Regions from separate parts of the Homo sapiens genome. Here regions 1, 2 and 3 are each linked to region 4. The links come from fine-mapping of genetic effects on plasma protein levels. A gene starts in region 4. Each other region holds a variant in brackets. All regions are shown on one strand. Distances are between the middles of the regions.

Region 1 (8,272 bases), 720 kb after region 4:
TTAAAAAAATTTTTATGCATACATAGTAGGTATATACATGTATGGGGTACATGAGATGTTTTGATACAGGCATGGAATGTGAAATAAGCACATCAAGCATTTGGGCAACATGATGAAGCCCCGTCTCTACAAAAAATACAAAAATTAACTAGGCATAGTGATGCACACCTATAATCCCAGCTATTCAGGAGGCTGAGGCAGGAAGGTCGCCTGAGCCTGGGAGGTCAAGGCTGCAGTGAGCTGTGATTATGCCACTGCAATCCAGCCTAGGTGACAGAGTGAGACCTTGTCTCAGAAAAAAAAAAAAAAGCCTTTATACTTTGGGTTACAAACAATCCAATCACATTCTTTAAGTTCAGTCATAAAAAAGAATGAGATTTACCTATTTTTCAACATTGATAAGGGGCCTCATTTTTCAGAAAGCTTGGAAACCAATCATCTGGGAAATTCAACTTAAAAGGCCCTGTATCCACCATCTCTCCAACCGCAGCATTTTACAGAGAGCAAGAAGGAGGCACAGAGGGGTTTAGAAACTGAACTTCACTATTTCAAGACCTGGGACTGCACTGCCCTCAGGTCGGTGACCCTCTTGTGGTGTCTTCCCTGTCACAGGCACTTGATAAATGCAGAAGGGAAGCAGGGCCAGCCCCAGCCCCATCTCCCTAGAGAGCCTCACACAGGTGTAGCAATGGCCTGGCTTCCTGGGGTGGAAGCCAGATAAGGATCCAGGAGAAGAGACCCTCTGAGTCTGCAGTCACTGCTCCCAGCTCTTTATTGAGGACCTTGCCTCTGTGCTGAGGACAGTGCTCTGTCCAGCAGGACAGATTGCAGGATAAGGGATCCTGGGCCCGTCTCAATTTACAAGACTGGCTATCCTGTCTCCCTACTGCCCCCTCCCTTAATCCTTAAGTGAGATTGGGATCAGAATGTCTCCACGCACCTGTTATCTCTCTCTCTCTGGTGTTACTGCTCCTCAAGGTCAGTGCCTCCCAGGCTCCGACCTCTCCTCTTCTCTTGGCTCAGCTCTGGTCCTGGGCCAAGATAAGCCTCTTGCTTCCAGATGGCTGCCGAGCTCCCTGCCTTCTCTGTCAGGCCTAGAGTTAGGGGCTGTGGCTGCCCCCTTGAGGCATTTGTTTTCTCCCTCACCACACCCCAATTACTACTCAAGTGCTCACAGCAGCAGCAAACAACCTTAGCTGGGTCCTCACCAGCTTTGATGAGCTCAGTAGCCAAAAAAAAAAAAAAAAAAAGACTATGCCTGCAATGAGAAGCTGTAAGCAGATCGTGCCGGCATCTGTACATCTACTCCTGAGCTGAATTCCTCTGTGGAGAGGTGAGGCCCAGTCTGTGTGGGAGAGGCCCTCAGGGTCCATGTCCTCTCCATTGTCAAGTGGAGAGCCAGCAACCAGGGGTCAGATGAGGTGACTTCTAGCTCTAGGTCAGCTGTGTCAGTCACCAGGGGGAAAATACTGTGGAGTTAGAGTCAGACTTTGGTTTCTTCCCTAAGAAGCAGCCAACAAATGTCACTAAATTCTTCCACCAGGACAAGCCATGTGGAAATGCATGGCAGGGGTCTGGTACCTGTAGGGTGTCTGTGACCTAAGGAAATTATGGTCAGGGACCATGACCCACCATTGACTCAACGGGGCATCAAGCACCACTCTTGTTACCCTTTGGAGCTCCCATTTCATCATCTAGAAATTAAGGAGATAGAAATTTTTGGAAAACTAAGTGGCTCTAAAGTTCTTTTCTATTCTGGTGTTCTAATATTCTAACCTTCCTTCTGTGTTGCTTCCATTGTTTGCATAATACTAATGTGCTCAATCGGGCAAGCTCAGCCTGCCATGCAGCCATTAAATTAATTTCTCTGAAAGGTAATTGATGGCCGGAAGGGAAAGCACAAAGCATCCCAAAGGCAAACTCATGTTTATTTCTCATCTTCTTCCCCTCACCTCCTCTCTCTTCCTGCTCCTCCCTAGGAGTGTGCAGAAAACCAAAGCTGCCCGACTCAACCATCTGAGAAGCTGATATCCCTCCTCTCAGTGTCCTTCTAGGGATTAGTAGCAAAGCCTCCTCTAGCAGATGGAAATTGCAGCCTTCCCTCCGGTCCCTGCCAGCTACTTCCCTCCTTCCTGCACTGCACTGGGAAATTGAAAGACTAGGTTTACAAGCAGTCCCACATCCTTGCTAGTACCGAAGTTCTATACATAGACAAAATGGGAAATGCCCACAAAAAGTGGGGTGGGGGCATAGTCCAGAGGCAGAATGTCCTGTAAAGACATCCAGGATAGAAGATGGAAGAGGTGGGCAGGAAGGGAGGGGGAGAAAAAGAAACTAAACTTTCTTGATTCTGCAGGGTCCCCACTGGCAGGACGCTGGCATGGGGTCAGGGTGGAAAGTCTAAATGATTCAATCCTAAGAATTTTCTGCCAGGCCCCTGCTTCAGAGTGAAAGCAACCTGCCCTGTATCCTCTCTGGGCACCTCTCACCTCCAGAGTTATGTAAGGGGCATCGCTCTGAACCCGGAGGATAATCAGATCAGAAGTGCCCCAGCCTGGCCCTCCCCCATGGCATGGTGCCTGGCCCAGGTAGGACATAAAACTCTGAAGCTCTCGAATGTTCATCTGCAAGGGAGATGCTCCAGGTCCCAGGAGCCATGGCCCATGACCTTCTCTTCAGGCTTTTTCCACTTTTGGCCCTGGGAGTCCCCTTACAAAGCAACCGCCTTGGCCCCACATCTCGCCTGCGCTATTCCAGGTTCCTAGATCCTTCTAATGTCATTTTCCTGCGTTGGGACTTTGACCTTGAGGCTGAAATCATCAGTTTTGAGCTCCAGGTCCGTACAGCTGGCTGGGTGGGCTTCGGTGTCACAAATCGCTACACCAACGTGGGAAGTGATCTGGTTGTTGGAGGAGTCTTGCCTAATGGCAATGTCTATTTCTCGGTAAGTGTGAGGGTGACTTGCTTCCAAGGATGAGGGTCTTTGTTGGGTTGAGGATGGTTTCTGTCCAGAAAGGATTCACATTCCCCGAGGATATCTAAACACACTCCCAGAATGCCAGCTGAATGCTGGTGTGTCCCTCCAGAAATGGTCCATTGTAGAGTTTGAAATCTATGTCTTCCAGACTGCAAGTCTCTAAGACTGCTGAGAGAATGAAACCATTAGATTGTGAGATAGTCTTGCACCACTTACTTGCTAAAGCCCACTAAATGCAGGTCACTAGGGAAAATTCAAAGCTGTCTGAGAAATAGTTACATGAAGAGCCACATGAGAGAATGAATGTCATACATACTTCAGATAATATGTGAGACTTCAAGTATTAGGGATGCAGGAATATTAGACTTTATGGACATGAGATTTGAAATGGGAGAAGTAAAGCAAGGACAGGTGGTGAAACTCCATTATCCATAAAAGTGTGCTCTGCCATGTTCTTCATGCCATGCTTTGCCCAAGGAGAAAAACTACATAATAAAGAACACCTGGGCTCTGCTACTGTAGTATCCTAGGGGAGCTAAAGGAACAGCTACTGCTCCAAAGCATGACATTTGAAGCTCCTAGTTCTTACTTCTTGACCTTCACTGGACCCAAGGATCAGCACTTGGTGGACGAAGACACTCTGAAGGAGGA[T/C]GGGAGCCAGGATGCTGAGCTGCTGCGGCTGACGGAAGATGCTGTCTACACCACCATGCACTTTTCCAGGCCCTTCCGCTCCTGCGACCCTCATGACCTGGATATTACGGTAAAATAGAGAGCAGAGAAAAGCATTTAATCACAAGCAGGTTTTCCTTCTGGAGAGGTAGTTGCCCCCAGTCAGGCAGCTAGTCATCATTCCCAGGACTTCTATTCCTCTCAGCCTTCCCAGGAAATGCTCCAATTGTGCCACCTGCTGAAATCCACAAGCCTTCCGCAGGGTGACCTCCCACTGATTCACCTCCTGCCCACCTGCCCCAGGGTTTTCCTTTTGAAGAATTCTGCCCAGTTTCGCTGACCTTTAGAGTGTTAGGATATAAGAGTTTAATTCAGTCCTTTCATTTTACAGATGTGGACACAAGCTTAGAGAGGGCATGCGAGAGGGAGTGTGACTTGCTCAAGATCACCAGCAAGTGAGCCTCGGAGGCAGAAATAGAACTTAACTAGTTCTCACTCCCAGTGTGAAGCTCCTTCCATTCCACCATGTAGACATGAGCAAGTGCCTTGTGTAGGTCCTTGGGTGCAGGGATATGCAGAGTGCTGCTCAGGGGTGGCAGCTCCTCAATGCTTATGGCACCCCGCAGAGCAACACCGTGAGGGTGCTGGCCACCTATGGCCTGGATGACACTCTGAAGCTGTATCGGGAGCGTACTTTTGTCAAGTCCATCTTTCTGCTACAAGTCGTCCACCCTGACGATCTGGATGTCCCTGAGGACACCATCATCCATGACTTGGAGATCACTAATGTAAGACACCTTCATCCCACCCAGCAGCCTCCAGCTCCCTTCTCCTCACCCCACTCAACCCAGATCCCTTCTCTTGCCCCCAGTATTCAGTACATCCCTTGGGTGGAGATTACTCTGACTCTTCTCTGTCTCCTAAGGACTGCCAATCTGACCCTAATGTGAACCCCCTTCCCTGGCCTGGCCCTTGCCCTACTTTTTCAGAGCCTCACTGTCATCTGGCTCAGCTTCTGTGCACCCTTCCACAGTTCCTCATTCCAGAGGATGACACCACGTATGCCTGCACCTTTCTTCCTCTCCCTATTGTGAGCGAGAAGCATCACATTTACAAGGTATGGTGGACCAGATGGGGGACATTGTCAAGGCAGGGAAGGGTGCTGGAGCAGAGCAGGGGGTGTGGTCAACCCTGGAGGATGAGGTCTGGAAAATTTCTTGGAGGAAGCAAGAAGGAAGTAGTTGCAAGAACAGGGGGACAGGCAGGGCTTGGTAGAGGTCGCGGCTACATCATTTCCTGAGCCCAGAAATGTAACTCCCAGCGCTATTTTATTTAAGCCCCACAATGCAACAGACATGTTGATGAAGGTTAAGAATTAATAATTGTTTGCAAAGAACAAAGTATGAGCCTCAACCTGGCCCCAGAATTGTGCTCTCTTAGCCCAAGAGGAGGTAAAGGCAGGGAGAGGATATGGCCAGGGGCTGTCAGGAGGTTGAAGAAGTCTAGCTAGAATGAACTCAAACTTGGTAACCCAATTTCATATTTGAGTGATTTCAATTTTGATCAAATAAATAAAGGTATGATCTCACAATATGTGGCAAATGTGGAGACTTTCTTTCTTTAGACAGATAATTTGAAAAGGCATGGCTACATGCTCAGATACAGTGAACTGAGGAGGTTACTAAGGGAAGGCAGAATGTCCCTGGCTAGATTTCATGTCTGCTCTCCAGAAGGGGCTTAAAGGAGAGGGGAGTTGAGAGGAGAGTCAAACTGAGTGGGTGGGAAAATGGTAGCTTGGGGAACAAAAACAGAGAAAAAGGGAGAGAGAGAAACAGAGAGAAGAGGGAAATGGGTATAGTTTTGACAGGAAGGAAGATAATATGGATTTGATGTAGAAGGTCTTGATCATGCTCTGCTCTCCTTTTCTGCCCAGTTTGAGCCTAAGTTGGTCTACCACAATGAGACAACGGTGCATCACATCCTGGTGTACGCCTGCGGCAATGCTAGCGTTCTCCCCACAGGCATCAGCGACTGCTATGGGGCCGACCCTGCCTTCTCCCTTTGCTCACAGGTCATCGTGGGCTGGGCTGTCGGGGGCACAGTGAGTCCCGTGATGGGGTAAACACATGGCTAAGCGGGTGCATGTGGTTGGGTAATGAGATCACTGGGCTGGTGGAAGACCAGGGGATAGGGGAAGTCTGGGATGACAATTAGAAAACAAGGCCAGGAGCCCTGAATCCCTATGGCTGGTTCCCAGCCCTTCTTGCTGCCAAATCTAACTCCTTCCAACAGAGCTACCAGTTTCCAGATGACGTAGGAGTCTCTATTGGGACCCCCTTGGACCTTCAGTGGATCCGACTGGAGATTCATTACAGCAATTTTAACAACCTTCCTGGTGAGCATCCAGAGGATTTAAGGAAGGGAAGCTGGTGGGGCTGGCTGTTTTTTTCGGTATTGGGAACGCATTGTGGGATGTGTGCTGACTCCCTGTTGTCAAAGCCCCACCCCAGCTTTCCTGAGCCTCTTTCTCTCCACATTGTGACCCACTCTCCTGCCTCCTGTGATTGACTGTTCCTCTCTGCACCAGGTGTGTATGATTCCTCGGGGATTTGCGTGTACTACACTTCTCAGCTGCGCAAATACGACACGGATGTCCTCCAGCTGGGCTTCTTCACGTTTCCCATCCACTTCATCCCCCCGGGCGCTGAGTCCTTCATGTCCTATGGGCTGTGTAGGACGGAGAAGTTTGAGGAGGTGGAGCTGGGAGGCGCACCCTTCCTGAGGAGGAAACACACTCTCCTTACCCCCCATCCCAGATCTGGTCAGATCCACAAGCCCACACAGCCTGAACCCCAGACTTGGAGAATAATTACAGCCTGGTGCTCAGGAGATTCACTAACATGAGTTTTGCAAGGAAGGGAAGGAGTCAGGGCTTTGAGAACAAGGGAAGTGCAGAAGGAAGAAGGGTCAGAAAGGTTCAATAAGAATTACAGTGGTAAATGTCAGTCATCAGAGGAAAGTGTCAAATACCAAGGGGGGGAAATCAAGCAGCAGGTCAAGAACACAGTCCTTAACAAATCGGGTGCACCTCTTCCCTGTTACAGATGAATGGAGCTCCTATGCCTGACATACAGGTGTATGGCTACCTGCTGCACACCCACTTGGCTGGACGGGCTCTGCAAGCAGTGCAATACAGGTGAGGGAAGACCTTGAAGCTCTCCCTTCTGCAGGTGGGAATGAATTTTAAGAATAGTGATTTATTCTGTAGCATACGATTATGTCCGGTTGAGAAAAAGGAAGAGGTAGAACTATCTTTAGAGTAGAAATAACTGAAATAAGACTGTGGAAGATGAAGTTTTTTGTTTATTTTTATGGATAATCTACTCACAGAATGACCCCACCCGCATGCTACATCTTTATTGGCAGACCCCTCTGTATTTCATCTTCTCTTTATTTCTGAATTCCCGACTTCTCTTCCTCTAGGAATGGAACACAACTTCGAAAAATCTGTAAAGACGATTCCTATGACTTCAACCTGCAGGAGACTCGAGATTTGCCCTCTAGAGTGGAGATCAAGCCGGTGAGAGTCTGAGGGAGGCCAGGCAGAGTTGGGGGCAGCAGCATCATACCTCATTACTGACAACCAAGAAAGTTCTCAAGCTGTACCAGTCCCTCTGTGTCTTACTCTCAGCCTTCATGTTTCACTCTGAACAGGGAGATGAATTGCTGGTAGAATGTCACTACCAGACACTGGACCGTGACTCCATGACATTTGTAAGTGACCTCTCACCCCACCATGGTCACCATGACCATAGCCCCAGTGGAGAGCCCACTCATGGCTTTGGCTACCCAGTGACCCCTGTGATTTCACTGAAGCCCCTTCCTTCCTCCAATGGCATCACACATCCACACGGGGCTTTTCATGTTCTCACACCCCATGCATCTAAGATAGGAACAGGGATTTCTCACATTATCTGCCAATAACCCACCAAGACCATGGAAATATAGTATGCTATAGCGACTAAGAGCAGAGATTCTGGGGCCTCATTGCCTGGGTTTGAATATCAGCACAATCATTTAGTACATTTCTAACTTTAGACAAGTTATTTGACTTTTTTGTATCTCAGTTTCCCAATTCACATAAGATTAATACTACTTTCTACCTCACAAGATTGTTGTGGGAGTTGGTTAACACATGCAAAACACCTAGATCATTGCCTGACTTGTAGTAGATTCTCAATTAAAGTTGGCTATTGTTTCTATGATCACAAGAAAATCCCCCGTTTTGTGCATCAGGAGTGGTTCAGTGCTTGTGGGATTCAAAAGGTGTTGCAGGCAACTGAGGAAAAAATACCGCCCTACAAATGATTATATCACAAGTTAGTAAGTGATATATACCATACAAGAAGAACGGGAATAACCCACTAGGGAAATTCACAGGAAAGAATCATGAGATCCTACTACAGTGAACTGAACATGTGACGTAGGTGAATGAGTCCTTCTTTAGACACATAGAGATGGGGAATTCTGGAGAAGGAAAAAACTGAGAAAGCCATATATAAGGAGAGCGTGGGGTGCACATGAAGAAGTTTGGTTGGCAAAAGATATCTAAAGGAATGGAATGAG
Region 2 (8,272 bases), 1.0 Mb before region 4:
AAAATTTTATAAGAAATAAATCTCTCTATAAATAGCAGAATTAACTTTGAAAAAAGACCAAATAAAATGGATATGCTCATGTTATTTGATATCTTACATACCCTGTAGGAAGACTTATTAAATTTAAAAAATAGAATGCTAGAATTGCATGGTGTAAGAACAGATGAAATAACAAACAGGAATGAATAGAGAGTTCAAAGACAGACCCAGACATAGGTAAACTTAATACACACTAAAATTACTACAAATGAATGAGTAAAGAATTGATTGTCTAATAAATGGAACACTGGAAAACATAACACTGGATCTATATTTAACAAATATTTAAAAGTGAATGTCAGATATACTAAAGAAATATTATAGTAGGTAAAACTAAAAACCTAATTAAATAAAAAATATAGTATTTTGTGACCTACATGCAGGATTTTATTTTTTTAGAAAAACAAACTTCCAAAGCACAAATCACAGAATAAAAAAGTGATGCATTTGATTGCCTCAAAATGAAGACCTTCTGTTCAACAAAGGACTCTATGGATAAAGTGAACAGAGGGATTGCAGATTAGAAGTATGTATTTGCAGTAGGTATGACACAACAGGGCTAACACCTATAATATATCCATCAGTAAAGAAATGGCAAAAAACCCAAAGGAAAAATGGGCAAAGAAAATGAACATGCAGTGTACAACAATAAAAACCCAAATAGCTAACAGTTTGCTTCACTCGCTCAGAAAATATTTACTTTGTGCCTTCTATAAGACAGGCACTATTTTAGATATTTGGCATATACTAGTTTAAAAAACAAAGAGCCCTGCCTTCAAGGGGCTTATATATGGGGCAGTGAAGGGAAACCTATATTTAAAAATGCATACATTGCAAAGAATGCTAGAAAAGATAAGTTCTTTGGAAAATAAATCAAGGGGAGAAGGAGTGGGAGTATGGGTCAGGAAGGAAGTTTGTTGTAACAAATAGGTCAGTCATGTAAATCTCCTTGAAGAGATGATGGTTGAATGAAAAATTGACAGAGGTGAGGAAGTGGCTATCTAAGGAAAGAGCATCCCAGGAAAAGAGTCTAGATAGAAAACAGGCCCATCTCCACAGAAAGACTTTGGATTTTATTTTTAGTAAATGCAGGGTGTGAGCAGGGTAATGACATGGCCTGAGTTATATATATATATATATATATATATATATATATATATATATATATATATATATATACATACACACACACACACACACACACACACACACACATATACATACTCATATACATATATACATATATATACGTATATATATATACGTGTATATATATACGTATATATATATACGTGTATATATATACGTATATATATATACGTGTATATATACACGTATATATGTACACACACACACACACACACACACACACATATATATATATATATATATTTTTTTTTTTTTTGAGACGGAGCATCACTCTGTCGCCCAGGCTGGAGTGCAGTGCCGGGATCTTGGCTCACTGCAAGCTCCGCCTCCTAGGTTCACGCCATTTTCCTGCCTTAGCCTCCCAAGTAGCTGGGACTACAGGCACCGCCACCACGCCCGGCTAATTTTTTGTATTTTTTAGTAGAGACGGGGTTTCACCATGTTAGCCAGAATGGTCTCGATCTCCTGACCTCGTGATCCACCCGCCTCGGCCTCCCAAAGCTGAGTTATATTTTAAAGGGTTCCCTCTGACTGCTGGGACACAAGAGTGAAGCAGAGAAGTTTGTTCTACTGAAGTAACCCAAGTGGGAGATGGTGGTGTTTCACACCAGGGAGTGACTGCAGAGGTGAGAAGTGATCATATTCCGCACATATTTTGAAGGTAGGGGCAACAGGATATTTTTGCAGATTTGAGTCCCGTATGAGAAAAAGGAGTGGTGAATGGACTCATCACTGCAATGACGAAGTTACCATGAACTGAGACAAGGAAGGCATGAACAGAATGATACAGAGTGAGAATGGGTGCGAATCAGGAACTCAGCATGAGAAAAACATGAGAAAAAAACTCCGTGTCTGATTACTTTTCAGAGTAATGGAACATAAAACAATTTTATCTTTTAGCTAAAAAAAAAATCAAAACATGCCAAGTGTTGTTGAAGTTGTACATAAGGAAAGATTGTGCACTGAAGTAGGAGTATAGAGTTATAAAGCCATTCTGGGGATCACTATGACCTAGCAACTCGGTTCCTCTGTAAATACACCAAAGAAATTTTCACACAGGTCTTTAAGTGAGCCTGTGTCATGATATGAATCCCAAGGTGCTGGGGAATTGGATATTTAGCTACCGGGAATGAAAGCTAGAATATTGTGAACACCATGGATTCATAATTGCTCATTGTGAACAATTAGAAATTGTAGACTAGCAATATGTATGAATCTTTATAGTGTTGAGGCTGGGCGCAGTGGCTCACACCTGTAATCCCAGCACTTTGGGAGGCTGAGGCGGGAGGATTGTCTGAGCTCAGGAGTTCACAACCAGCCTGGGCAACACGGTGAAACCCCGTCTCTAGTAAAATACAAAAAATTAGCCGGGCAAGGCAGCATGCGCCTGTAGTCCCAGCTACTCAGGAGGTTGAGGGGGAGAATTGCTTGAACCCGGGAGGCAGAGGTTGCAGTGAGCTGAGATCACGCCACTGCACTCCAGCCTGGGCAATAGAGTGAGACTCCATCTCAAACAAACAAACAACAACAACAACAACAAAAAAAAAAAACCCAAAAAATATAGTGTTGAATGGAGAAAATGAATACATAGAATCAAACAGATAACAACATAATGCATTTTTTTAAAAATGCATAAATGCACTCTCAAACATATTTTATTGCATTAAACAAATTAGAATAGTTGGCCAAAAGACCAGGAAGAAATGGACATTACGAATAAGATAAAAGAGAATTAATGCAATATGCAGCATAACAATGTTTTGCTCAATGACTGACCTCATATACTATGGTGGTCCCATAAAATTATAATGGAGCTGAAAAGTTCTTATTGCCTAGTGACTTCACAGCTATTGGAACGTCATAGCAACACATTATCTTTTCTATGTTTAGATATATTTGGAAACACAAATATTTACCACTGTGTTAAAATTGCCTACGGTATTCAGTACACTATCATGCTGTACAGGTTTGTAAACTAGGAGAACAGGCTATACCATCTAGCCTAGGTGTGTAGTAGACTACACCATCTAGGTTTGTGTACCTACACTCTATGGTGTTTGCCTAATGACAAAATCGCCTAATGACACATTTCTCCTAGCATGTCTCTGTTGTTAAGCAATATATGACTGTAATAAATTTTCAAAAATTAGTAAGAGGGCCCTCGTGTTATTCCATATACTGAGGAGTATTATTAACCAATTATCTCTGCACTGGAGATTTTAAAAAGCCTTATTTTCTAATATCCTAAATTCTAACATGTATGATCTTTACATACTTCATAAAAGGCAACTCTTAAAATAGCAAAGAACATGTCCATCAATAAATTATACAATGAGCATGAATTTAACAGCATTGTTAGGCACTGTGACGACAAGGAGCATCCTCCTTGCTCTCAAGAAGCTTACAGTCTAACTTCCCAAGACAGCACTGCCCTTTTTGCCCACTGCGAAAGCAGGTTTTCTTCTTTTGAAAAGTAGGGGATCAAAACAGCTTTATTTTTGAAAATTTACACAATTTTTAGCCGAGTCATTGATGACAGTAATCTATAGAATTCAAAATTTCCATTGAAAAGCAATATGTATAAATAAATTAGATTAAGTCCAAGATTTCACACACACAAATATCTTGTAGGTCTAGAATCATTTTCTCCATCAATACATATGACTTGTAGAAAAATACATTCTCTTTTTATAGAGATTTATCTGTTTTCTCCCAACCCTTGATGGATGAACACATGCAGTGAAAGAAGGGAGACAGGATGCAGGTGCAAATGGGGAGGGAAGAGCAGCTGGACCATAACAGGCTCCGCACAGGAAGAGTTTGGATTTTGTTCTAAGAAGGAGATGTAGCCTAATTTATTTTCTAAGATAAAGGTGTCAGCAACAGGTACTGGAGAGGATATGGAGAAATAGGAACACTTTTACACTGTTGGTGGGACTGTAAACTAGTTCAACCATTGTGGAAGTCAGTGTGGCAATTCCTCAGGGATCTAGAACTGAAATACCATTTGACCCAGCCATCCC[A/G]TTACTGGGTATATATCCAAAGGACTATAAATCATGCTGCTATAAAGACACATGCACACGTATGTTTATTGAGGCACTATTCACAATAGCAAAGACTTAGAACCAACCCAAATGTCCAACAATGATAGACTGGATTAAGGAAATGTGGCACATATACACCATGGAATACTATGCAGCCATAAAAAATGATGAGTTCATGTCCTTTGTAGAGACATGGATGAAATCGGAAATCATCATTCTCCGTAAACTATCGCAAGGACAAAAAACCAAACACCGCATGTTCTCACTCATAGGTGGGAATTGAACAATGAGAACACATGGACACAGGAAGGGGAACATCACACTCTGGGGACTGTTGTGGGGTGGGAGGAGGGGGGAGGGATAGCATTAGGGGATATACCTAATGCTAAATGATGAGTTAATGGGTGCAGCACACCAGCATGGCACATGTATACATATGTAACTAACCTGCACATTGTGCACATGTACCCTAAAACTTAAAGTATAATAAAAAAAAAGAATAACAAAGTAAAAAAAAAATTCACTTTTAAATATTTAACAGACTACAGGATAATTGACCTAATTAAACTAAAGAGCTTCTGCACAGCAAAAGCTGAAAGAGCATAGCAATTATTTGTATTCATAGCTTATGTTAATGTAAAATCTTTGAAAATAAAAGTACAAAAATGAGGGGTAGCAAATAGTAGCACACTAAGGTTCCTGTGTGAATATGGAATATCCTGTGAATATGGAATATCCTGTGAATATGCTATTGTACATGACAAAAGGGCCTTGCAGATGCATTTAAATGAAGGATTTTTAAATGGGGGTATTGTCCTGGACCATCTGGGTGGCCCTAATGTAATCACAAGTTTCTTGTAAAGAACAAGGCAAGAGGATCAGGGTCAGAAGAAAGATATGTGATGACAGAGGATCATTTCTCTGTCATCATATGGAGGACAGAATGGAGTGGAGGATCAGAGTCACAGAAAGGTTTGCTGTGCTGTTGGCCTTGTGGAAGGAGGAGCCAGGAACCAAGGAGTGGAAGTCACCTCAGAAAGCAGAAAGCAAGAAATGGAATGTTCCCCAGAGTCTCCAGGGAGAAACGCAGCTCTGTCAACAGCTTGATTTTGCCCTAGTAGAACCCGTATCAGACTCTGACCTTTGTAATGTTAAGATAATAATTTTGTAATGTTTTGAGTCACAAAGTTTGTGGGACTTTGTAAGATAAGGTGGAACTTGTGGAATTCCTACTTTTACAACAGGAAGAAGAAACTAAAATAGGCTCACGTTCACCAAATATGGGACAGTTTGAACATCAATAAAGACAATAACTGCTGTGGATTAAGACACATCAAATAAATGCACATCAGTGAGTTCATAACTATAATGAAAAAAACCTCACCTCATTTGTTGTATTAAAAAGTGGCAACGAAAGGGGAAAAATTAAAAAATTTATTCTGCCTTTCTCATACCAACTATACCTCAGGAGGATGAAAGAGTGATGAGGTGGAAGTTTCTCTCTATAAATGTATTTTAGATAATAAAGAGAAAAGGATGATAGACTCTCACCACCTTGAAACCCCTAAAAAATTAATAGAGCTAGGTCAGTACTTCTCTATCAGGGGCAATATTGGCATTGCCTAGTTGGGAGGGAGTACTAGGGCCATCTAGTAGGTAGATGTTAGGAATGTTGACCATGCACAAAATAGCCCCCATAACAAATAATTATTCAGCCCAAAATGTCAATAGATATTTGGCACTTTTGAAAACTCCTGACCTATGCAATATAATAGTTGTAATAATCCCCAGAAAAAAAGGAACATTGTGTTTCTTGCTACAAACATTGTGTGCTTCTTGCTAGAAGTACATGTGACCATCTATGAAATACCATTGTCATAAAAAAAAATAAACCTGATGAAACCTCTGGATTAAACAGGAGATACAGAAATAAAATAACATGTAAAATTACACTATAGGGATGTCATCAAAAAATCTAGACTGTATGAGAAATCCAACAGGAACAAATGATACAGTTTTATTTAAAAAATAATTCCAACAGTAAAAAAGTAGAATTTATAGGTTACTAATTTACTATAAATTTATTAATTGATAGAGTAAAAGAATTCTCAGAGGCATAGTAGACAATTGGAATATATGGGTCTTATTTAGATTCTTATTTGAACAAACTGTAATTTTTATATGTATTAGATTTTTAAGGAAAACCTTCAGTGGTGTTTTTATGGTTATTAACTAATGAAAAATATTTTATTTTCAAATACTTTTCAGTGTCTTTTTAAATTTTTTCTATTTAATGGCTAAATAAACAATAAAGTTTAGAATAGCATCTTATTTTGTATTCCTGTATCAAGACAATGTTCATGCCTTCTATTGGGAATGTCCTTCACAAGCAGCTATGAATTAGAAGTGTGTGTAGTCTTAAGGTGATCCAACTAATTTAATTTATGAAGATTAAAGTTACCGAGAAAGTGCAGCCTTGAAATTAAAAACTCTATCAAATAAAAAAGATAAAAATTGAAATTTAATAGATGGAATATATGATGGTTAATATTGACCATCAACTTGATTGGATTGAAGGTTACAAAGTATTGTTCCTGGGTGTGTCTATGGAGGTGATGCCAAAGGAGATTAACATCTGAGTCAGTGGACTAGGAGAGGCAGGCCCATCCTCAATCTGGGTAGGCACCATCTAATCAGCTGCCAGCATGGCTAGGATAAAAGCAGGCAGAGGAACATGGAAGGACTAGATTGCCTGAGTCTTCTGGCCTCTATCTTTCTCCTGTGCTGGATGCTTCCTGACCTTAAACATCAGACTCCACTCCAATTTCTTCAGCTTTCGGACTCTTGGACCTACACCAGTGGTTGACCAGGGGCTCTCGGGCCTTTGGCCACAGACTGAGGGCTGCACTGTTGGCTTCCCTACTTTTGAGGTTTTGGAACTCCAACTGGCTTCTGTGCTCCTCAGCTTACAGAAGGCCTATTGTGGTACTTTACCTTTTGATCGTGTGAGTCAATACTCCTTAATAAACTCCTTTTCATATATTCATCTATCCTATTAGTCTTGTCTCTCTAAAGAAACCTGACTAATACAGAATATGAGACTATAGTAGTCTATTTCTACATACCTAATGCCCACTCTCAGCATTTCTGCTTCCTGAGATATCAAGACTTGGATAACCCTTCCAGGAAGAACCCCAACATGCTTAGGAGTTGTTTGAAGGCAAAGGATTGTGTGATGGTTGATGGAGAAATGTCACGAACACCGTGACCACACGACCGCTGGCAGAAATGAAGATATAGCATCTTCACGTATTTTCCTCCTTGATGTATTATGTGTATGTTTGTATTTTTGATTACTTTCTTCTTATCTCTTTCCCATACCATTTCATATAGAGCATGTTCACGATGGTGAATTTTCCAGTTTACTACACAATTTACAGAATGTTCAGACAGCATCCTCACATTTTAGAAGAGGAATGATATTCAGATGGCATTTCCAATCTGGGAGATGAAGTGTTTTAGCTGACATCACTTTTAAATGACACCACTTTACTTGTCTCCTTCCAATTGCATCTAACTTAATTCAGATGTCTCGAATGTCTCAAGAGTATTACTGAAGCAGACCCAGCAGACAGGCTGGTCATCTTGCCTCTAATCTTTTCTTCCACTATCTCATTTGCCAGAGTGATACTTTTAAAATGTAATTGTTTTCAATCTATACTCCTTCTAAAAATTTTTGACGGACTATTGTTTTCTATTAGAATAAAGTTAAAAGATACTTAGACATTCGACGCCTTCCAGGATCTGACCGTGTCTAACCCGTCTGCTTCGTCCTCACTACTCTCTCACTCTTCTCTGCCCTGAAATTGAACTTCCAACATTTTTTGGACTTTCATGCTTGCTCACATCTCTACAACTTTGTACAGGTTGTTTCTTTTTTGGGTTTCTTGTCTTCTGGATAACTTGTTCTTACATTTCTGGTCTCAATCCAAGGGTCCTTTTATAGGAAGCCTTCTGCAATCATTTCCAGTGGGCTCCCC
Region 3 (8,272 bases), 680 kb after region 4:
AAATACATATGTTTGTGGATAATTAAATTTCACTTGTTGGAGGAAGTTCACAGTGAGCAAAAGTGATCAGGGTAGAAGATATAAAGACACAGGACTTGCTCTCAACTTCTGGGTAATATTAAGGAAGAAGGAGAGAGAAGGAAAAGATAGCCCAGATTAAGGAGGCGCTTATCCTGACCTTTCCAAGAATTTGGAGTTAATAATTGAAACTAATCGTGTGCTCTTAAAGAGGCTGCAGGTGTCAGAGCCTGCACCTTCTCCACACTAAAGGGCTAGTGATATAAAGCCAAAGGGAAAAGCAATTTTCTTTCTCATGAATAAAAGCTATGGGCTGTGTTTTACGATATTTTTGCCATGGATATCTCTCTGGTGTAAAGTAACATGTCATTTCATCATGAATATAATAGAAAAATGATGAGTTTTCCTTTTATACTACTAAATTTTATAAGACTAAAACTTAATACTAAATTTTCTCAAGTTAGGCAGGTATAAATTCAATTCATCTGTCTACACACCTGCTAACTTCTTTCCTAAAACTATTAAAAATATCTGAACAATGGGGCTCATAAAATATAATCACAAACTTTTGGAGCTACAAGATATAAAGTGGGCTAGACTTTAAAAGCTGAATAAATTCGTAAGTGTTGGAAAGATAATTGGGATAAGAGGAAAGGCTGAAGAGGGTCATCCTATAATGCTCTGTAAAATGATTTTAATAAAAATTCTAGACTGGAATCAAGAAGAGAAATTAGGAGAGCAAAAATATAAATCTCTAATTTCCTTCCAGACGAGAAAATTCTCAGGTGCCTTAGTTTTTTTTTGTTTTTTTATGAGACAGAGTCTCGCCCTGTCGCCCAGGCCGGAGTGCAGTGGTGCCATCTTGGCTCACTGCAAGCTCCGCCTCCCAGGTTCATGCCATGCTCCGCCTCAGCCTCCCGAGTAGCTGGGACTACAGGCGCCCGCCACCACGCCCAGCTAATTTTTTGTATTTTTAGTAGAGACGGGGTTTCACCGTGTTAGCCAGGATGGTCTCGATCTCCTGACCTCGTGATCCGCCTGCCTCGGCCTCCCAAAGTGCTGGGATTACAGGCATAAGCCACCGCAACCAGCCTCAGGTGCCTTTTTAAAGCTTCCTTTCTGTTACTGTATGGGGCTCTCTCTCCCATACCAACATCCTACCAACGACCACAAACCAACATCAGCATGACTACTGAAAAGCATTACACCTAATTGTATGGCTGCGGAGCAGAGTTCTGTGAAAAAAGTTTCCTTGTGTCTTCAGGAAGTGATATTCAGGACATTTACTGTGTCAAGAGTTTCTGATCTTTGAGTGTGTGTGTGCGCGCGCTCGTGTGTGTGTGTGTCTGAATAGTACATATATTAAAAAAAGAATGCATTTATCAAAGTTAAAGCATAAATTAAAAAATAGATAGTTATAATGTTATAAGTGGGGTACAATTTAAAGGTATGGGATAATAAATTTCCCCCCCAAATTACCTTAAAGCCACCATTTCCTGATTATGTGAGACAAGAGAACGTTCTGCTCTTTTGGTAAATCTGAGAAAACTTTTCATGATATTGTAGAAACTTTAAGATGAATCTGTTTAACTGATAGTTCCCAACTTTCCTCTGTCAGCCACTTTCCCCACTAGTGATGATGATGACAAGATCGTTGGGGGGCTACACCTGTCAGACGAATGCTGTCCCCTATCAGGGTCCCTGAATGCTGGCTATCACTTCTGTGGTGGCTCCCTCATCAATAACAAATGGGAGGTGTCCACGGCTCACTGCTATAAGTCGTAATTCATTGATACTCATTTTCTTATGCACTAAGATTAATTAATCCTCTATCCCTGACAAAACACAATCCAGAGTAAACTGCAGAGTTGTGCTTGAGGGTGAGGCATTCAGACCTCCAGAGACTTCTTATTTTCTCAGGCATTATCTGATGTATAAAGGGGGGTTTGCATGGAGAGGTACCCTTCAGGGTTCCCTGATGTCTTCCCAAATGATGGTATTCAAGATATGGAAGGGAAATAGTGAGTGATGAACTATCCCTAGAAATAGCTTATGACATGAATCAGTACATAGTGCTAATTACTGTAGCTCAGCCAGTATAAACTGTATATGGAAGTAATAAAATACAGAGAATTTACAGTGCAACATTAAAAATATGCATGATTCATTCTGTTCCCTTAACATTCTGCCATTTCTCTGACTCCTGCTTCATTCCCTGTGATAACTGGTGATCCCAACCAGAGAGAAATGGCAAATGCTGATCAATCTCCACCAACTTCCTTTTTATCTCCAACTGTTTTATTCAAGTCCTTGAGTTCTCATTCCCATTCCTTACTATTCTAACAAGATGGCGGGCAGTGAGTCTGCACTTGCAGTGACACTTCTCTAAGGAAAACTCTAACCTGTACCATGTGGTGGTGCAGAATGCTACCTTAAGTGCACAATTACTGTATGACCGATTGCTTGAAAAGGATGGTGTCTGTGTTTATGCTCATAAATGGGGGGTCAGGAGGAGTGGAAATAACTCAAGCTAGATACTTAGGAACCTCTTATATCTTTTAATCCAGCCAAATCCATGTGCATCTTGGAGAATACAACATTAAGGTCTATGAAGGCAATGAACAATTCATAAATGCAGCCAAGATTATTTGCCACCCCAAGTATAACTCAGCCACCATTGATAATGACATCATGCTGATTAAGCTGAGCTCAGTCGCCACCATCAACTCTCAAGTGGCCACCATCTCTCTGCCAAGATCCTGTGCAGCGGCTGGTACTCAGTGCCTCATCTCTGGCTGGGACAACACCCTGAGCAGTGGCTTTAGTGTCGCCTGAAACAGAAGTACCAAGTGTGACAATTTTAGAGCTGAAAGACATGTGGAAAGTCAGCTAGTCCAAACTCACTTAAGGTTAAGTTCCCAGAGCATAGTTTTTGGATACATGGAATCTCAGAAATATACTATTAATAATTGAAATGAAGAAGATTCCTTTGCTGGAACCATGCAGAAGACATAATAATGAAGTACTATGAAGATATCAGGGTATTTAACTGAAGTGTGATTAGTGATGGGCAGAGAACTATAAACTGAGGAGGTAAACAAAACAAAGACTCAGGGATTTGGTCTTGCTTGGAGCATTCAATTGGAATGAATTGGAACAATTCATTGATTAGAACTATTTGGGAAAGCTTCTAGAAAAGAAAGTATTGCTCTCTCAAATGAGAAGCCGTTGGCTAATTGAAAGAAAAAGTGAGAGTATTGGGGAAGA[G/A]GGGAGATGTATTGAGAAAGAAAATTTTGGAAACCTCATGAGTAATCTTGCATTTTTCACTCTTCCACTCCACGGCCAACTACCCTGATCTCCTGCAGTGTCTGAAGGCTCCCATTCTCTCTAACACTGCTTGCCGCACAGCCTACCCAGGCAAGATTACTACAAACATGATATGTCTGGGATTCCTGGAGGGTTGAAAGGACTCTTGCCAGGTTAGTTTCTTTGTACTGCTTCTCAATTCCAGCTTATTCTTAGTCTTCTCCACCATAATTCCCCTTTTCAGAAACACAGAAGATTGTAAAACTGTCCCTATAACTGATTGTGAGAGGTGAGGGATAGCCTTGGGACAAATTAAATATTTTATTTTTATTGTATTAATGTCTAGGTTTAAGAGTTAAAAGATGCACAGAAGATGGTGTGCAAATAGTATTTCTAAGTGCCCTTCTGAGGAGGTAAACTGTGGAAAGGAACTCTAGTGGAAGGAGCAGAGCTAGTTAAGCAGCATGAAACCTCCTCTTGGCCCACTTGGCCTACCAAGGAAAGAGAAGGGGCTCAAATAAGGTATAAGGAAGACTAACTACTGATATAGTAAGTAGATTGAGGGTTGGAGGGTTTCAAGAGGAAGAGAAAGTGCTTCATGCTGGATCAGCAGTGTGGGACAATGGCTCCAGCACAATGGAAGAACATCTTACGGCCCATTCTCCCATCTGGGCATAAATAAGATCTCTGAATATCCCTTCCTTTTTGCCCAGGGTGACTCTGGTGTTCCTGTGGTCTGCAACGGAGAACTCCAGGGCATTGTCTCCTGGGGCTATGGTTGTCCTCAGAAGAACAAACCTGGAGTCTACACTAAAGTTTGCAACTACGTGAAATGGATTCAGCAGACCATTGCTGCCAACTAAACACCTTTATCTCTTCATGTTCCATATCCTATTCATCAACTTTACCTTCTTTCTATGCCAAAACACAGTATCTAAATAAAAATATACTGTCTTGTACCACGTCTTTTCAAGAATGGTCCCTGTCGGCATTGATTAACTTTCTCTTGAAACTAGCTGTTAAGAAGGTGGACATAGGGCCAAACTATTATATTGAGAAAATGTGAAAGGTTATTGATGTGGTTTGGCTGTGTGTCCCCACCCAAGTCTCATGTCGAATTGTAATTCCCAGTATTGGAGGTGGGGCCTGGTGGGAGGTGATTGAATTGTGGGGGCAGGCTTCCCCCTTGCTGTTCTTGTGATAGAGTTCTCCCAAAACCAGCTTGTTTCAAGTGGGTTGCACCCCCCTAATCCTGCCATCCACATGAAGATGTGTTTGCTTTCCCTTCTACCATGATTATAAGTTTCCTGAGGCCTCCCAAGAAGCAGAAGCCTGTACAGCCTGCAGAATCATGAGCTGCCTAAACTTCTTTTCTTTATAAATTACTCAGTTGCAGGCATGTCTTTATAGCAGTGTGAGAATGGACTAATGCAGTTATTTAGTCATTAATTCAACCTAATCAATATAAGTTTACTGATCACCAACTATATGCCAAACTCTATGTGATACATTGAGAATAAAAAGGTGAACAAGCTTAGAGGTCACTGTTACCACCACATTTTGTTTTTTTACAAAATCAAGAACTCTAAAAATATGTCAGATAAATTTTGTTTTAAGATTTGGCCACAGTATGTATTTTAACTTGCATTTCTGGGGCCAGGTGTGGTGGCTCATGCCTGTAATCCAAACTCCTTGAGAAGCCAGGTTGAGAGGATCACTTGAGGTCAGGATTTTGAGATCAGCCTGGGCAACAGTTAAGAGATCAGCCTGGACAACACTGCCTCTACAAAAAATTAAAAAATTATCTGGGCATGGTGGTGCATGCCTGTAGTTCCAGCTACTTGAAAGACTAAGGTGAGAAGATTACTTGAGCCCAGGAGTTTGAGGCTGCAGTGAGCTTTGATTGTGCCACTGCACTTCAGCCTAGGAGACACAAGTCCCTATCTCTAAAAATAAAAATCAATTAATTGAAAACATGAACTTTTATGGTAGATCATGCATTCATACCTTACAAGATATAATGACACTAAAATGCAGAAAATTAAACTTAATTGCCCAAAATCATTCAAAAGATTCACAGTAAAGCTAAGATAAAGCCCAAGTGGGCATTCCCAGTGGATTGCTGCTGATAGAACAGAATGGTCTTTCTTTCCTTTTTCTTCAATCTATCTGAAACTCTGGGAAGCTAGGTAGCAGAAACCTGTAGATGCAGAAATATTTAAAATTCACAGGTTTCCTGTGTTTTCCAAGGTTTCACCTACCTGTATATTCCTTTCCTCCAAGATCTTTCTTGTTTTCCAACTAGAAATTTGCTATAGCAGGCCTGGTCTCTGGAGACAATCTGTGTCCCTTTTTCACCACAAGTTCCCCCAAATCCCAGCCCACATGATGTACTAATTTAAACTACAAACAGAAACAAAAAGGTACAAATTCAGATAAGTTTGCAGAAAATAGATATTGTGCCTTGAGGTCATAAATGGCTACAGATATATTATCTATTCTCTTCAGTCCTGTTTGAAGAGTGCATCACAGACTCTGGCTTTAGTTCTTCCACGAGTCGTCCCTCAAATCTTCATTGTTCTGTGTGGCATTGAAAGGAGGGCTTGGAGCAGAAGACCCTGCACGTGACTCTCATGGTTATCTGGAATGAGACAAAGGAAAAGACACACTGGGATCAGAAAACAGAACGGTACAGGTGGAGGCAGTTGGAAATGGGAGTTTATTTGTGGTTCAGTGATAAGGTGAAGGAAGGGTACTGTCTTAGGCAGCTCAGTCAGCTATAACAAAAATATCGCAGACTGGGTGGCTTGCACAACAGACACTTATTTCTTGCAGTGGAGCCTGTGAAGTCCAAGATCAAGACACCAGGTAGTCTGGTGTCTGGTGAGGATAGCTTCCACGTTTCCTAATGGCCATCTTCTAGTTGCATCCACTCATGGCCAAGAGAGCCAGTTCTAGTCCTTTTTCTCTTCTTACAAATTGGTACATTAATCCCATCATGGGGGCCACCCTCTAGACCTTATCTAAACCTAATTACCTCCCAAAGACTCCACCTCAACACCATCCCATTGGAGGTTAAATTTTTAATATACGAATTTGGGAAGTGGGGCACAAACATGCAGTCCATAATAAATATTTCAGAGGAGGAGAGTACTGAAAGGTATACGTGCCCATTAGCAATTTTCTATCCTTTTGTAAGTATGGATGGCATGTTTGTAGAGAAAAGCTGAGCTCTTAATACTGCCTTATCACTGCCCCTAAAATGCAGCCAAAATTTCTTAGCCTTGCATTCAACATTCTCAAATATTTGATCACAACTAACCTTTTCTGTCTTATTTCCTTTGTTCTCATTGAATTGTTTTTATGTTTGTGTATAATCTAAATTAATTTCATATATAGCTCTCTTTGTGTAAATAGGTAGCCTTATATCTACCCCAACTAAAACATCTTGGGCTTCCGCCTTGAACAAAATGAGATTAAGTTTTCCCTGTTCCCTCTGAAATACTTTTCTGCTCCACTTAATTACCACCATCAATACCTACCTATTCAGCTTCCCACCCCAGATAGAGGGAAGGTTCCAAGACTTAACAGGAAGTGTGAGATACACAGAAGATGAGAGATCAGGGCAGGTCCAGAGAAAAGAAAAAGGCAAACAAATTATTAATCCTTTATGTTATCCAATAGTGTTTGTTTAGTACTTATTCTTGCCAGTTTCAGTCTCTTATTTTGTTTAATGCTTTACAATTTGTGAATTTTTATTAAACTGTATATGTCATATGCCATTTTAAACAACAACTTAGCTTTTATAAATTCACCCTAATAAAATAAGCGTTTAAGTTAAAAAAAAAAAGGTATAAATGTGAACACATCTCTTAGGAAGTTGCAAGGAACAGAATATCTGACTAATAAAGTCTTTAAAAAATTCACAAATGGAAGCTTAGGAGTAGGGAGGGCTTCAAGAATATTTATATAAGAACATTTGTCTTAATAAGATAAATTGCTAAATTTATCTCTATAAATAAATTATCTCTTTTCCCCTATAAATCTTATTTAATTTATTATTTTGCTGTAACACCACTATTTATCTTTCATGGAAAGTGACTTTAGTTTTGAAATCAAATTTTAAAATGTCTTTAAAAAATAAAATATTTTCTATCTTCATATTATTTAGTCTCACTTTTAAAAGTCAATTTAAAATGTCAATTTGTTGATGGGGCACAAATACAAAAGTCTTAGTCCTAGAGATACTCATTTATTCTGACTAGCTCAGTCTAACCACTTTCTATTTGTATGCCATCTAAACTATAGGATTTCCAGACATCTTGAAGAAATCATAGTTTTCAATAATTTCTTAGTTTCTCCATTTTTTTAACAAGCTCCCTACTTCTACAGAATAAATCAATTCATTTTCTCCTTTACTAACTGATCTCATCTTCTCACTGCAAGGCACAAATCCCTTCATCAAAACTTACCCGAGAGTTATATAAGCGCTCTAACATGACCTCAACAGTCTACTGTGATTTTATGTACACAGTCCCCATGCAAAGCCTTCATTACTTAACAGAGTTTATTTTTAAGGACACGTCCGTGTGCATAATCCAACTTCATTTTTTAAATGACTTTCCTATTTTTGTGGTCCATTTCTATTTGCAGTGTTCTTAGCCCTTGCCAGCTCTGCCTCTGAGACTCTTATTAGACTTGGAGGGACCCATGCAGTGAAAGGCCACAGGTTTCCTCCAAGGCCAGCTTCTGGCTCAAAGATCTGATAGCAGTAGAGTACACTGTTTTCCAAACAGAAAATATAAGGCCATATGTTCTGAAGAACTGTTGGAAAGTTAGTTTTGTCTTCATTCGTAAGGGGAACTTTCACAGTTCACACAACTTTGTGTTGTGGTAATTTCTCATACCACTCATGTACTATATCTGCAGTTTAAAAAATTATAAGACA
Region 4 (8,272 bases):
CCAAGTGAGACATTTAAACATAAGAATAAATGCTTGCTGGGCACGGTGGCTCATGCCTGTAATCCCAACACTTTGGGAGGCCGAGGCGGGCGGATCACCTGAGGTCAGCAGTTCGAGACCAGCCTGACCAACATGGAGAAACCCCGTCTCTACTAAAAATACAAAATTAGCCAGGTGTGATGACACATGCCTGTAATCCCAGCTACTCGGGAGGCTGAGGCAGGAGAATCGCTTGAACCTGGGAGGCGGAGGTTGTGGTAAGCCGAGATTGCACCATTGCACTCCAGCCTGGGCAACAACAGCAAAACTCTGTCTCAAAAAAAAAAAAAAAAAAAAAAAAAGAATAAATGCTTGTTCCTCTAACCATTGAGTTTTGGGTGGTTTGTAACAAAGCATTATTATGGTAGTAGTTGACTAAGACCTTGGTTTTAGCAAGAACTTATGTAAATTTTCTTGAGGAAACATATGTTGAATTGACACAACTTATTAGAGTCTCTGTATTCAGAGTACTATCTTCAAAACCTGTTGGATTAGGAAGAAAAATGTGGTGGCATGTAGAAAATACCAAAAAGAAAATAAAAAAGGACAAAGATCCTCCTTTTGAGCTGTTTCTACCCATACATAATTAAAACTCCAGACTTCTGAGCATTTTCTTCAAGTTTTTGACATATTCAAGTACCAATACAGCTATTATTTGTTTAGTATATTTTAGTTGATTTAATAAAAATACAGAGGCTATGTATTTTAGTCTTCTTAGAGTCATATATCTATAAAAGAAAAATGTATATAAAAATGAAAATATTGGACCAGGTGCAGTGGCTCATGCCTGTAATCCCAACACTTTGGGAGGCCAAGGCCAAGAGATCGAGACCATCCTAGCAAACATGGTGAAACCCCGTCTCTACTAAAAATACAAAAATTAGCTGGACATGGTGGCGTGCACCTGCAGTCCCAGCTACTCGGGAGGCTGAGGCAGGAGAACCGCTTGAACCCAGGAGGCGGAGGTTGCAGTGAGCCAAGATCACGCCACTGCACTCCAGCCTGCTGACAGGGCGAGACTCAGTCTCAAAAAAATATATATATATATTATATATATTATATGTATAATATGTATTACATATATAATATATATAATATATATATAATATAAATATATATATAATATATATAATATAAATATAAATATATATATAATATATATAATATAAATATATATTTATATATATACACACACACACACACACACACACACACACACATATTGAAAGAGGTCCATCTACTTATCACTTAAATTATTTCAAAAGCCACTTTGTGGTATACTGAACTTACAAGCTACTCTTTCCCAAAGGAGCTCCCCAATTCTCAAGTATTGCTTCCTTTGAAAGAGCAATCAGTGCACCCCAAAACCTGCCCCCCATGATCTGTTTCTCCATCATCTTCTGGGCAAAGTCCTCAACATTGCTTGTGATGTCAAGGCTTACTTCGGTTCACTCAGAACTGGGTTTATTGTTCTTTAGGGGGTAGCTTCTTAGTGGCTATCACTGCAATCGAGTGATCTTAGAAGCAAATTGCCAGTCATGTGCACACTTGAGAGTGTCACAATAGACAGATTAATGTCCTGTCCTTGATTTTGATACCACATCCACTGTAGATGGCAGCTGATTATGGATAGAACATTGTGGCAAAGGCCATGATCTTCAGATGATGAAACTGGATGTTAGAGAGTTTGAGAATACTAGTCCCCAAAACTGTCACCTCACAAGGCCAAGCAGTGAAACATAGTTTAAAAAGAAGAGTTTAGATGAAGGAAGATGTTTACTATGAAGAAACTTCCAAAAAACAGATACTTAGTGACTGAGAGGCTCAATGGTTAAGGCTTTGGTTCAATTCTCGGTTCTGCTAATTATTAATTTTGTAACTTTGAGTAAGTTCACTGTACTTTCATATCTCTCTGACCGCTCATCTATAAAATGGGGAAAATAAAAGCTGTTATTTCCCTCAGAAAGTTGCTGTGAAGACTGAAGGAAAATGTACAAGCAAAACATTTAGCACATTCCTAGCACAAAGAAGGTGCTCCGTAAAAAGTGGTTATTTTTATTATTACCAATATTTTATTTTGATACTATTATGGCATGAAACAAAACCTCCTGGAATTAAAATAAACAGACAGGACAATTGAGGGCAAGAAGGAGGCAGCATCCGAAAAGATAAATGTGGTCCATGTGCCACAGCTGTTAACACACCTCTTCTCGGGGCTTAGATCTGAGTGAAGGCTGCTGCACTCCCGTGACTGGGTATGGCTGTGCTGGTGATGACTCACCATGGAGTAGGATATGGGTGATAAGAAGAAGTCCTGCTCCTGAGACAGCTCCCAGGATGGAGGTTGCTTGGCCTTCAGGAGGAGGCTGAGTAGGAATGGTGGACCTGGCAGCTGTGCTGCCCTATCCCTGTGGCTGGCTCAGCTTCTCTGACAGGGAGAGAACCTAAGTCCAGGCTGTGGTGGCTGTCCATAGGCAAATGTCACAGAGCACACTCCATCTTCAACTTTCTCTTATCAAATCTAAGTGGTCTCCATTATCATCTTCCTAGGGAAACATCAGCTCAGGGGCTTTGATTGATAGAAAAGGAGTGAGGAAGGGAATATGTGTGAAGGAAGCTAAAAGCCCATGGGGAGAGTATTGGACTTTCTGTGGAAGGGAAGTTTGAAGAGGAGGCACCATCAGGGTGTACCCACACAGACCAAACACCTCTAGAATCCTGAGTCAGCTTTTTCCCCTCACTCTGATTCCTACTCCCCCCTTAATCAAAATTCCATTGTTCGCTGGCATCACTATTCCCCTAGTCATGCAGAAATGCAACTTGGAGCTCCTCTGTGGCTCTATCATAAACCCCTCCTCCATTCAATCCATTGCCATGACTTTATTCCATACAATTTTTCTTTCTACGCACTTCCCTCCCCTCTGCCATCCCCTTGGGCCGGGCCCTCCCTTCATCACTCCTGCAACACCAAACTAACCACTCTGTTTCTTGTCTTTTATCCAATCAGTCCAGATCCCCAATACCACACCGGCGTTTCTTAGATATTATTGTATCTTGCCACACCTTTCCTCAAAAGCCTTATTTTTCCCAATGCTTTCTTTTCTAATGTATGAAGTTCTGACTTTTCTTTATGACTTTCATGATACCCGACCAGCTGGCCCCAGGGGGCACAATGGCTTTACTCCACTTCTCCACACCCACCCTCATCCTGGCAAGTGCACCATGGCCCTAGCACAGTGCTGATGGAATCTGGAAATATCGCCAGGGGATCATTTGCAAGACTAACCTAATAAATTACATTATTTTTTTCCTGGGATGAGGAAACAAGGACAGAGTTGAAACACCTTCCCCCAGAAATGTGCTTGCCTCTCTCAGACCACAGGTAAGGGCTTAATATGATGTGAGAAAGAGGATTTCTGGCTTGGAATGCAATTCATTTCTATTAACATTTAGAAAGCATCTTGGGTGGGCAGGAATGAAAACCAGACACTGTACATGCTATGACATAGTTTTCAATCACTAAGGAGATGAAGAGGCAAGCTATCAGTGTAACAGAAAGCAGAATGAAAGAAAGAGGGGCTCAGTAAAGCCTTATTCTTTTGTAGAAGGCATGAGATCCTATGAGGTAGGCATAGGCAAGTATTACCCTCATTTTCCAGATGACAAAACTTGCTTACCTGCCTCAGAGTTTAAGTGGCTTGTTTATTGTCACAGAGCTAATAATTAGCAGATTAGGGTCTCCTAGCTGGGTGATCTTTTGAATGCATGACTTTGCCAGCAGCCAGCAGAGCTATGAAACACCGAGAGAAACAATTAAGCATGCTTGGGAACAGTGTGAATGGGCATGGAGCTGGGAGGCCTCCTGGGAAAGGTGGCATTTGACCTGGGAATTGATGAATCCCAGAAAAGCCAATCAGAGAGGTGTGAAAACAAAATTAAAATGGAGACTGGGCCTGAAAAATTCCCAGGCAAACAAAGCCAAAGACCTTAAAAATAGCCATATTCTTGCTAAAACTACAAACATAAATTAAACTTAACTTGGGTCAATTTCTGATAAATGCTTACAACAAATAAAACTTAACCCCAGCCAATGATAAGCAGCCAACTAACATATGATTATGTGACTAGGGACTTTCCAAAAAGTTACCTAAAAAATGCAATTATGTAACTGCAAACTAAGCAAATAATGTTTCATTTTGCTTCTATAACTTCCCAATAAATGCTTGCCTCTGACATTTTGTCATCGCAACACTAAACCTTTGTCGGTCTGGTGCTCCCCAATTCATGAATTGCTTCTTACTTAAATAAACTCTTTAAAATTTTACTGTGCCTCATATTTTTTTTAATACAGAAGAAATGAGAGAAGGAAGAATATTTTAGAAATAAAGGAACTTCATGGGCAGAGTCACAGTGCAAGACAAAAGGAGCAGACCAAGGGCAAGATTGCTTGGGGAGTGAAGACTCCCTCCCTCTTCTCCCCTGAGAAGCTGAGATAAAGGGGGAGGAGAAGCCTGGGTGCCCCCCACTGATAAGCAGGCTCCACCCAGAGGCCAGTCCTGTGTGTCTGGGGACAAGGCGAAAGAGCAGCAGAAGTGCCCCTTCTCCAGGATCAAGGAACTGGGGCGGGGGGTGTTTCCTGGACCCCAGTCCTCCGAATCAGCTCCTAGAGTGGAACCAGGAAGGATTCTGGAGCCACAGAAGATAGACAGATGGTAAGTCCCCTTTTGGAGTCAGAGGCTTAGCGGGGAGGGGTGAGGGTGGCTGTGTGCAAAAGTCCTGCCCCCACTGGAGGGGAGGGAATGTAAGGCTTACAGAGTAGAAAGGTGGGGAGAGAGGGAGGTAATGGGAGAGGGATCGAGAAATGGCACATTCAGGGGACAGGTTCGTTCTGAAGCCCATCTGGGAACACTGCTCCGAGATAAAAATATGTGTGTGGGGGCAGGGCAGGCAGCGAGGGTATCAAAATGGCCTGATAAAACTCTCTTCAATGCACCATTTCCTGAACCAGCTTCTCTCTCCTCCTTCTCCCTCCACTCACTTCAGGAAGGTGGGGACCAAAGTGAGGAAGAGCCGAGGGAACGCAGCCAGGCAGGTGGAATGGGAACTCTCTGGAGCCAAGAGGTAAGTGGCCTCCTCTCCTGGGTCTGGAATACACTGATGTTGTCACTCTCGGCTCTAAAATCCCACAAACACTCATCTACTAACTGTCTGCTTCATCCTCACCCAAAACAGTTGACATTCCTTGTTTTCTCATCTCCCAGGAGTTAAAGTAGGGCTGGGTTTAGGAAGAATTGGGATAATTATTTCTGTATAAAGGGACTGTAGCACCAACAGATTCATTCTCTCTCCTCTTCTTCCCATCCCTGTCTCTCAACCCCCATCTTGTATCTTTCACCTCTTGGTTCCTCCCACAGAGCACTCCAGAAGAGAGGCTGCCCGTGGAAGGGAGCAGGCCATGGGCAGTGGCCAGGCGGGTGCTGACAGCTATCCTGATTTTGGGCCTGCTCCTTTGTTTTTCTGTGCTTTTGTTCTACAACTTCCAGAACTGTGGCCCTCGTAAGCAAGATCCCAGACCCCCTAACCTAGTCAGCCCTCCCCCAGCCCTGGGGCCCAGGCCCAGTCCCTGCTCCTGGGGCTTCTGCCCACCCTGACCCTTGGGGTCCCCATGGTTCTTCTTCCTCCCTGCATCCTAACCATTTCTTTTTCATCAGCTCCCCACTTAGTTACTCACCTGATGTTCTTTGCCTAGCCCCTTGGGGGAGCCCTTGTCTTTTTGCCTCTTCTTTCCCAGCTCTGAGCTTTTCCCCACAGGCCCCTGTGAGACATCTGTGTGTTTGGATCTCCGGGATCATTACCTGGCCTCTGGGAACACAAGTGTGGCCCCCTGCACCGACTTCTTCAGCTTTGCCTGTGGAAGGGCCAAAGAGACCAATAATTCTTTTCAGGAGCTTGCCACAAAGAACAAAAACCGACTTCGGAGAATACTGGGTGAGGAAAGCAGGGTGGAAGATGCTCTGTGCAAGTGGGTGACTCTGTGCCTAAAATGACCATGACTGCTCCAAACCCTGTGTAGTTGTGGAACAACTGATTTGCACCATCCCAGGTGGGATTATACGGGTGGATGATTGGAGATGATGGGGGAGTAAAAGAGGCAGGATGGCGGGAGCTGCCTGGGTTTGCTCATCTCTCACTGTTTCCTGTTGCCTTGCCTTGGGTACCCTTCTTCCGTTTCTCTTGGTCCCTTTCTGCATTTTTTTCTTTATCTAATTTCCATCTTCTTTGCTTCTCCATGTATCCATAATTACTCCATTCTCTCCAACTTGTCCCTTTTAGCAAGCTCCATCTTTGTTGCTTCCTCCAAATGTTCAGTTTCTATCCTATGCATGGTGTTTTCCTCCACAAGCATCTCTTCAGCATCTCCTGCATTTCAATTCTTTTGTCCATCACTCTCATTCTCTAACCTCCAAAACCTCAGTCTCCCAATGACTCCTTGTCAACATTACCCTCTCCCTCTCACCATGCCGGAGCTCCCCTCTCTCACAATGATCTCTTGCTTCTTGCTTCTCCATTGAAACCTTGAACCATGGCAAGCAAGTTGACCTGGAACAAGTGGGATGTTAGAGATGGATGATTGGAGATGATGGATGATGGTGGAATGAAAGGGGTAGGATGGTGGGGTGAGAAGTGAGAGAGGGCTTCATCACTGTGCATAAGAGAAAAAGTGGGTAAGTACAAAGGATATGCTGGAAGAAGAGGAGAGCTGAGTTAATTGGCAGTGGAAGTAAAGTTCCTGCAGATGGAGGCTGGAGAGGAAAACTGCCAGGACTGAGAGGAAAACCAGAAGGATGAGCTGAAACTGAGTAGGAGGTTGGAAGTGCGTCCCAGGAAGTTGGTGGATGGTGGTGAGGATTTGGGAATAAGAACATATAAGATAGACATGCATTTCCAGTGCAAGGGAACCTAAAGAATGTGTTGACACTATCAATTAGAATCTGGGAAAAGTAAATGCACCCCTCTGCCCTCTTTTTTTGATGGGGAAAGAGTGGGAGGGGGCCTCTCTTTGGGTAAATGGATACTTTCAGGGAAGGCACAGAGATAAAAAGAAAAAATATGCTCAGGATAAATTATATTGCCTACAATGGGATGAATAGATATCAGGGGGACTGAGGGTGAAAAGAGTGTTAGATATTAGAGGGTGGATGATTCAGAGAGACTTGCATTTGATTATTGTAGTGTGTTTGTTTCCTGGGATCAATGGATGAGGAGTCTGGACTAGAAGAGTCTTCCCCTGTTTCTTCTCTTTGCTAAACCTTTCCTTATGAGTTTTCTTCTCTCCAAATCCTTAAAGTTCTCTAGTTCCCTGAATTTGTCTAATTTCTTCAATCATTTCTTTTGTCTTTCATTTCTCTCTTTTCTCCTTTGCCCATATCCCACTTATTGCTACCTTTCTCCTTTCTTCCCTGTCTTTTCCTTCTTGGTTTCTTCCCCACATTTCTTTTATTTTCCATATTGTCTTCTTCTCCTCATTCTCTTTCCCTGCTTTCATCATTTCATCAAGTTGATCCATTCCAAATTGGGCAGTCCTCTCATCTTTCTTATTTTCCTCATCTCTATTCCTCCCCCTCCTTCCATATTCTGTGGGAGTCTTTCTTTCCTGTAAGCTCCCTGTCTCCCACCCTCCCTCTTTGCCTCTATACCAGTTGCCACTCCTTTAATTCTCCTGCCGACAAAAAGAGTCAAACTCTGTAAAATATTTGAAAAGATTTATTTTGAGCCAAATATGAGTGACCATGGCCCATGATACAGTCCTCAGGAGATCCTGAGAACATGTGCCCAAGGTGGCTGGGGCACAGCTTGGTTTTATACATTTTAGAGAGTCATGAGACATCAATCAAATACATTTAAGAAATACATTGGTTTGGTCCAGAAAGGTGGAACAACTCAAAGGGGTGGGGGTGGCTTCCAGGGTACAGGTGAATTTAAACATTTCCGGATTGACAGTTGCTTGAGTTTGTCTAAAGATCTGGGATAGATAGAAAGGGAATGTTCAGGGTAAGATAAAGATTGCGGAGACCGAAGTTCTTTTGAAGTCTTATAGTGGCTGCCCTTAGAGACAATAGGTGACAAATGTTTCCTATTCAGATCTTAGTTAATCAAAAGATCTAGCTATGTTAATGAGATATGTTAATAGCTAATAGAGATGCTTTACAGATGCAAATTTTCCTCCACAAAG

Alleles and levels. Alleles are on the strand shown, and positions count from the first base shown. The strength of an association depends on the size of the effect and on how common the allele is.
As copies of C replace T in region 1, the plasma level of the protein whose gene starts at base 4,592 in region 4 goes up (weak association).
For the plasma level of the protein whose gene starts at base 4,592 in region 4, allele G in region 2 goes with a higher level than allele A (weak association).
For the plasma level of the protein whose gene starts at base 4,592 in region 4, G is the high allele of the variant in region 3 and A is the other (weak association).

Evidence for each region. PIP is the chance, under the fine-mapping model, that this variant and not a neighbour inherited with it causes the effect. The UK Biobank Pharma Proteomics Project read protein levels with antibody pairs (Olink). The fine-mapping took linkage between variants from a reference panel, not from the people measured, so its PIPs are less certain.
Region 1: its variant is fine-mapped to the plasma level of the KEL protein (UK Biobank, PIP 0.91).
Region 2: its variant is fine-mapped to the plasma level of the KEL protein (UK Biobank, PIP above 0.99).
Region 3: its variant is fine-mapped to the plasma level of the KEL protein (UK Biobank, PIP 0.95).

The regions. Positions count from the first base shown.
Region 1 is chr7:142,241,452-142,249,723 of GRCh38, reverse strand. It overlaps the pseudogene MOXD2P. Among named protein-coding and RNA genes, the nearest start is that of PRSS58, 12 kb to the left of the region's middle. RefSeq lists an enhancer at 2,981-4,180. The variant T/C (reference allele first, on the strand shown) is at 3,629.
Region 2 is chr7:143,962,506-143,970,777 of GRCh38, reverse strand. It overlaps OR2F1 (olfactory receptor family 2 subfamily F member 1), which reads right to left. Exons shown (of 3, transcript NM_012369.3): 3 at 6,418-8,272. Among named protein-coding and RNA genes, the nearest start is that of OR2F1, 12 kb to the right of the region's middle. The variant A/G (reference allele first, on the strand shown) is at 4,212.
Region 3 is chr7:142,283,163-142,291,434 of GRCh38, reverse strand. It overlaps the pseudogene PRSS3P3. Among named protein-coding and RNA genes, the nearest start is that of PRSS58, 29 kb to the right of the region's middle. The variant G/A (reference allele first, on the strand shown) is at 3,286.
Region 4 is chr7:142,958,683-142,966,954 of GRCh38, reverse strand. KEL (Kell metallo-endopeptidase (Kell blood group)) reads left to right here and starts at 4,592. Exons shown (of 19, transcript NM_000420.3): 1 at 4,592-4,751; 2 at 5,083-5,160; 3 at 5,454-5,595; 4 at 5,851-6,027. The coding sequence starts at 4,749. RefSeq lists a cis regulatory region at 2,109-2,510 and a silencer at 4,633-4,828.